Linked DNA regions of Homo sapiens. The protein of the gene in region 2 interacts with the protein of the main gene of each other region in a biochemical or structural test. Each region holds a gene or a part of one and is shown on either strand. Other genes may lie near its edges.

The links. Proteins that work in one complex are often made in the same cells at the same time.
Region 1: the proteins of ADGRA3 (region 2) and PDZRN3 interact in a test that uses a peptide from one of them, tested with the Homo sapiens proteins (one large-scale study listed by IntAct).

The regions. Positions count from the first base shown.
Region 1 is NC_000003.12:73,600,942-73,604,441, forward strand, and holds part of PDZRN3 (E3 ubiquitin-protein ligase PDZRN3), read right to left. Parts: intron 1,521-3,500; coding exon 1,413-1,520; intron 1-1,412. UniProt on the Homo sapiens protein: E3 ubiquitin-protein ligase. Plays an important role in regulating the surface level of MUSK on myotubes. Mediates the ubiquitination of MUSK, promoting its endocytosis and lysosomal degradation. Might contribute to terminal myogenic differentiation.
Region 2 is NC_000004.12:22,436,067-22,439,566, reverse strand, and holds part of ADGRA3 (adhesion G protein-coupled receptor A3 precursor), read left to right. Parts: intron 1-1,146; coding exon 1,147-1,311; intron 1,312-2,925; coding exon 2,926-3,127; intron 3,128-3,500. UniProt on the Homo sapiens protein: Orphan receptor that may have a role in planar cell polarity pathway.

The DNA of each region.
Region 1 (3,500 bases), on a different chromosome or scaffold from region 2:
AAGCTCCAAGTTTAAGAACCCTTCAAACATTCAAAGGGGATGCAACAATATTAATAATGTCCTTAAAACAAAATCAAGTATCATTTTAGCATGTAAGTTAGCACATCACACTCCCTCCGAGGAGGGAGCCTTACACCCTAACTAGTTCAGTTTGCTTTCCCTGTGAGATTTAACTGTGTATTTTCCTGAGGATTACAAATTATCCTGAAGCATACTGCACGTTGCAGAATGTGTCCAGATGAGACTGGAAATGCAAGACTTTGTTCTCTGTCTTGCTGAGGCTCCTTTCCCCAGGAGAAGCCTGTGGCCACATTCCAGTGAGTGATGTGAACTTCACTTATGGCTTAGCTCGTGGTCCTAGCTCCCACTCAGTCCTAAATTTTGAAATAGGCCATGAAAATACTCAGGAAATACAGACATGATAAAAATGCATGTGGAAAACAAACACCCACTGGTATCGGTGCTGTTTTTCTGGTTTCTTCTATTTGCACTATATTACGGCTGTGGCCCATGGGTGAATTTCTTGTGGGGTCTGGCATATCATCGTGGATTCTCAAATTTACTTTTTGCCTAATAGGAAAGCCAATCAATTTAGCCCATATGTGTATCCATCCAAAGAGCTATGAAAATGGTCAAAACACCAGTAAAAAATTACTCATTTATATCAAACTTTGCAACAAGAGCCCATATGAGAAGGCAACAAATCATTCTCTCCCTTTTAGTGACTCAGAGCATCCTAGAACACTGCAACCCTGTTACAAAGTGTTGTCTGGTGGGGCTGAGAGATCCACTTCCCCTACATGAGTCTACAAACCTGCTGTATAAAAGTTTGAAATGATGAATGACGAACTGAAAATGGAGTAAGTGATGATATGTGAACCCTAATATCAACCTCTGCCTGCAAATCCCTGGGCAATCAGGTTGTACAACTAACAACAGGCAAAGACGACAAACTAACAGAGAGAACAATGCATTTGTAGAAATAAGTGTGTGCTGTGTGAGCTCTGAGGACATTAGAATGACTCCAAAGCTGACACAATTGTACCCTGGTAATCAATATGAACAGGGTGCACAATTTGTACAACAGGGTTCGTTCATCTGGTTCTAACATCCAACTCTTCAACGGTTTTCGCGCGAAACTGTAACTGATGCATACGAAACAGATTGAGGTCCACATGAAAAAAGCCAAATTGTGAACATTCCACTCATAATCTGGCTTTTCTACATTTAACAAAAATTTAACACCAAGGCAATCAACACTCAATCTGGTCCCACACAATGGGAAAAGTGAGACTCCCGCTCAACCATCTACCACTTTAGGCCTCCCTCCCCAGTCAAACATCTTGCTTTGAGCTAGACGAAGATGGGATGGCATTCAGCCTATTCAAAGACACTGGCCAGTATTCACATACCTCAATAATCCTGTCATGAATTTGCAGGCCTCCTTCCTTGGCTGCAGGCCCACTGTCAACTATCTTGGATACAAAGATTCCTTCACTGGATGATCCATCGTGGTTATCCTTTGGGTTAAAAAAAAAAACATGCATGAATGCTAGGCATTAAGTTGAGCATGAAAGTAAAGCTTGCACTCTTAAAACAGTAATTGACTCTTGCTGTGTCAAGAGTGGCAATAGGGTAAAAGGTATTTGTTTCTCCTAATTTCTGTTTTAAACTAAAATACACACACAGTAAAATATTTCAAACCACACCAAAGGACATAAAATGATGCATCCCTGCCATCTCCAACCCATTGTCCTTCTTCCCCCGCCTATGGTAGCTATTTGACTTTATGCATCCTTTTGAAAACATTTTAACACATCATATTCCTAAATATGCATTTGTTCCTTTTTGCATACAAATGTGATTATGCTAGTCTGACTCTTATGTCCTTGCCTCTCTCATTTAACTCTAAAAATCATGAAGATCTTCTGCTACCAATTCGTGTCTGCCTTACTTCTTAAAGTGACTGAACAGTATCCAACATGAGGCTAATAAACACTGTTTTCATTTGCTGTGATTAAACAATGCTGTGATAATACTCTCCTACTTGTATTTTAAATTATCTTTGCTATTATAGTTCTAGGGCAAATCCCTAACAATGGAACTGTTGGGTAAAAGGATATGTACATTTCAAAGATATTGCCAAATGGCTTTTCAGAGAGTTTATACTTATTGTTCATTAGACAGAGTGTTTTCCCACATCCTCATTTGCACAGAATGTTATTAAACTTGTAAATATCTAATAATTTGACTGTGAAAACAGATATTTTGTTTTTGTTCCGATGCACTACCATCACTCTAGTCCTAATAAATTCTGATCTCTGACCTCCTTGAATCTCTTTAGATCTTTGAATTAAATGTCAGAACTAAAACTTTCTGGGAACGAAGACAGCTCACTGTTCAAACTCCTTCCTTTCCTTAAAATCAAAAGGCTCCAACAAGCTCATAAAAAACCCTCACAGCTTGTTCACGAACTTCTTTTCAAACAGCACTGCAATGAATTCTCTCCAAGTGTACGGATTAAATTTCTAGTGATTAACAGATGGATTTATAAATTAAATGGCACAAGCATGTGATATTTCCAAACAAAATCATTTGAAATGTAAGCTCAGAATGTTCCACAAAAACTCCAAAATCTAGTCATGGTAAATTCCTTGCCGTATGTCATTAGAAGATTTATTTCAATAACAATTACTCTGAATACAAATACATAAAAATTCCATTTGTTAAAAATAACTCTTCAAATAAAACATTTTCCACTTTAAACAGCAAAAAACAAAACCAAAAAACAATCCCTATATTCTAAAGGGGGAAGGAAACGACTTCAAGTGTGATTCAGTCTACCCCTTCAAATGCAACAGCAATAACTAAGCTTGGAAAAATGTACATTTCTCAGTCCTTCTCTCCTTCCTTCTTCACACTTCCCCAAACACACACACACACATACACACACACACACACACACACAGAGTAAAATGTTATATGATTCACCAAAAGAAACCAAAATCACAACCTAAAATGAGCATTAAGTGTTTTTCCTGACATTTATCCCCACATGACAAAGATATGTCTCTAACTGGCATCTGGATTCCATCAACGCTCTTCCAAGAGAAGGGTCAGGGAGCCTGTGGGTGCTGTGTAGGATCATCTATCCTCAAAAGGCATCCCTGCCTAGCATCACAGTGCTCTGCACAGACCTCCTGCACACTAACCCTTTACCATCTGAATACCTCTGTGCCTCCTTCCTCTCTCACGGCAGCCTTACTGAGGCACTAGTCTGAACACATCCGTGTAGCTCCCTACATGCACACCTGAAATATATGTATAAAGCTGCAAAGCAGCTTCCTTTACTGAGCACAAACTAGGTACCAGGTACATAGTGAGTGCTCTATGTGCACTGTTTAATCCTCACAATAACCACAAGTGGTAAGTACTATTATTACCCATTCCACAGGTGAAAAACCTGAGACTGAGAGAGGTTCGGAAACTCATCCAAGGTC
Region 2 (3,500 bases):
GCCGTCAATGATTTAGGAGATCGGACAAATGTGTATTTACTTTAAGACATAATTTTGTAAGTTAATTAAAATGATACATACTTTCTGTCTAATTATTTCTTATCATTTGTGTCTACATAACAGCAACGCATACTGGGTCCTGTGGGGGAAATAAAGGTTAATTGAAGGCTCTGACATTTGCTCCTTAATTAATAGGTTTTATATTAGAGAATTATGATTTCATCTTGGAAATTGGATTTACTGACAGCCATTTAGAAACACAGCTGTTTTATGAATTGAAATATACCTTAACACAGAAACCTTTTGTGAAAGTATTAATTGGTAATTTACTAAATCTTTTTAGGGAGGTAACTGGTTTGTTTCTAGTGTAACCCTTTATATTTTACCTTAAACATTTTCTTAATTATGTAAATTCGTAATAATCTTCTTTTTTCATGTTTGAATATTTTCTTCAGAATCTGTGAGAAGGGAGATGTGACTTGGAAACTTCTCTAAGTTTTGCTAAAGAATGTACGACGATGTTTCTGCCTTTGGGCTTGCCATTCCTGTTCTTTTTTTGTGTGTATGAAACAGAGACTTGCTCTGTCACCCAGGCTGGAGTGCAGTGGTGCTCTCTTGGCTCACTGCAACCTCCGCCTCCTGGGTTCAAGCCATCCTCCAGCCTCACTCAGCCTCCCAAGCAGCTGGGATTACAAGTGTCTGCCACAACACCCGGCTAACTTTTAAAAATATTTTTAGTGTAGACAGGGTTTCGCCAGGCTGATCTTGAAGGCTGGGCTGGTCTTGAACTCCTGCCACCCGCCTCTGTCTCCCAGAGTGCTGGGATTACTTGCCATTCCTGTTCTGTAAAGTGTTCTGCTCTCCCTATTTCTGCAAGGAGAATTCTCATGCGTCGTATAGCATTGCATTTGATTCATATGTCTCTTATTGCCCTGATTGTGTATTTTAAAGATCTCTTTCCTTTTTTGCCTTGAGATTGAAGGATTTAAAGGAAGGAATCATTTTTTAAATTCATTTTTATATAGCAAGTGCTTACCCCACAATATGCATTCAAAAATATTTGCTAAATTAATGATTGAGACCCATTATTGTCTCCTTTTTTGCCTAATTATATTTTCTCTCTTTTTAAAATCTTTCTTTATGCAGTGCCCTAACCATTTCTAATATTCAGGCTGGATCTACTGGAAATTGGGGCTGTCATGTCCAGACCAAACGTGGGAATAATACGAGGACTGTGGATATTGTGGTATTAGAGAGTTCTGCACAGTACTGTCCTCCAGAGAGGGTGGTAAACAACAAAGGTGACTTCAGGTCAGTGTTGTGGAAAATACGGGGAAAAGTTTAATTTGTCCCAGATCCTTCTGTTGTCTAAGACACATTATTGGTTTCCTGTCCTGAGTAACAAAATTTGAGAACTGCACATGTCTGAGGACTACCCTTTAGAATAATGATTTCAGAATCACATATGGAGATGAACAAAAGGGGTGCTTGAACTTTATCTCAGACCTGTTGATTGAAGAATCTCTGAAAGTAGAGTCATTTTTAACAAATGGTTTTGTTGTGTAAGAGCCATTGCCTTAGGGAAACATTGGAGATATTCTGGTAAAAGAGTACAAAATTCAAACAGGTTAAGTAAGGTATTTTCTGTTTTTTTTCCCCCCAGTGGCTCTTTTATAGATGAACCTTGGAAGGTTTTATATTGCTAAGGTACTTTTCACTACTGGCAGTTCAGTAGGCATCAGAATTAGAAGAAACACCTATCTAATTTTCTCCCCTTGTTCAGTTCTTCTGGAAATCAAGCAAGAAGGACTTTGGGAAATGAAAGCTGTTGGGTAGCCTGAAACTTGGGGAGCCATGGAATCCCAGGTGGGGTTTGTTAATCTAAGCAAAGGGAGTTATTTATTTATTTTTTTATTTTAGTAGAAAGTTTAGGATTTGCAAGAGATGACAGCTTTTACCTTAAACTCTCTTTACTTTCAAAGGTGCTTTAAGACATCTTTAAATATCTTATTTACTTGATCTTATTTATGTTCAGGGATTTAAAAAATGAGTTTATAGTTGATATGAACAAAGGGAAATATGTTATTCTTTGAAGCAGCATAAAGATTGTTTATTACCCAGTTTGCATTGTCTCTAATGGGTTCAGTTGTTACCTCCTGTCTCTAACCTCAGTGTTTCAAGGGTGGGAAAACCCTTTGGTGTTAATCTTTTAAATCCAAAGTAAAGAAGCAATAATAACATCTTTATCTCAGCTAGTTTGCCATTGCTCTTTTTAAAAAAGTTATTCTTGACATCAATATATGGAAATCAACATTTATTATTGCCAATGGATAAGTCTTTTATGTAGATTAGGTATTGATCTATAATATTTATAGTACATGCTTTTAAGTGAAATATATGATATTTGGTAATTTTGTTACATTCAACATCTTTTATCAAATAATCCTAATATGATATTTACTATTTATGGTAGATTTTCTATATTCTCATAGTTTTGAGTGCTTTACATTTTTAAAAATAGAGCAATTAAATGTTTATAGATCAATGAATTATTTGTCTTTGACACTCCTTAAGATATTATGCAATTAAATTCCCACTGCATTAATAAGATTTAGTTTAGTGTTGCTTGATCTATTTATGTGGTTTTTGTAATGAATTCTGTTTTGGTGTGACTGATACTGTCATTTAGTGGTTCCTGTGATGAGCATCCATGGTAACTTGTATTAAACATGTTGAATTTCATTCTCAGTTTTGGAGACATAGAGTTCAAATAACAAAGGTTTCTCCCAGCCCAGTTTTGATGACCCGTGTCAGGGTTGTATTGACATGACACATCTTCATCTTTGATTTTTTTCTCTGCTGTTGTTATTCTTGATGTACCCGTGTCATTTAGATTTTCTTGTACTATTTTGTCTTCATCTCTAGATGGCCCAGAACATTGGCAGGCATTACTGCATATCTGCAGTGTACGCGGAACACCCATGGCAGTGGGATATATCCCGGAAACCCACAGGATGAGAGAAAAGCTTGGCGCAGATGTGATAGAGGTGGCTTTTGGGCAGATGATGATTATTCTCGCTGTCAGTATGCAAATGATGTCACTAGAGTTCTTTATATGTTTAATCAGGTAACTAGAAAGTCTTCATGTTTACTTGGGTTGTGGAGAAAACATGGTATTCAAACCAAATACATAAGTTTTTTTTTTTTTTTTAATACTAGGCAAAACATAAGGATTTTGTGTTTTTACTTTAGTTGACTTAACTGTCTTCAGGATCAGGTCCATCTTAATCACTAGTCAAGGCCCTCTATAGAATCCTTCCTTTGCAGTCACCATCTCCCTTTGTGCCTTTGTTTGAATATCTTTTTTTTAATCTGTATCCACCAGACAGAATCCTAACCATCCTTCGAGTTCACATTGAAAGCCACCTCTTGGATTCATTTTATAATCACTTTGTTGAAAGCGATTGCTTAGAATACTTGAACTACTCATGTGCTTTTTG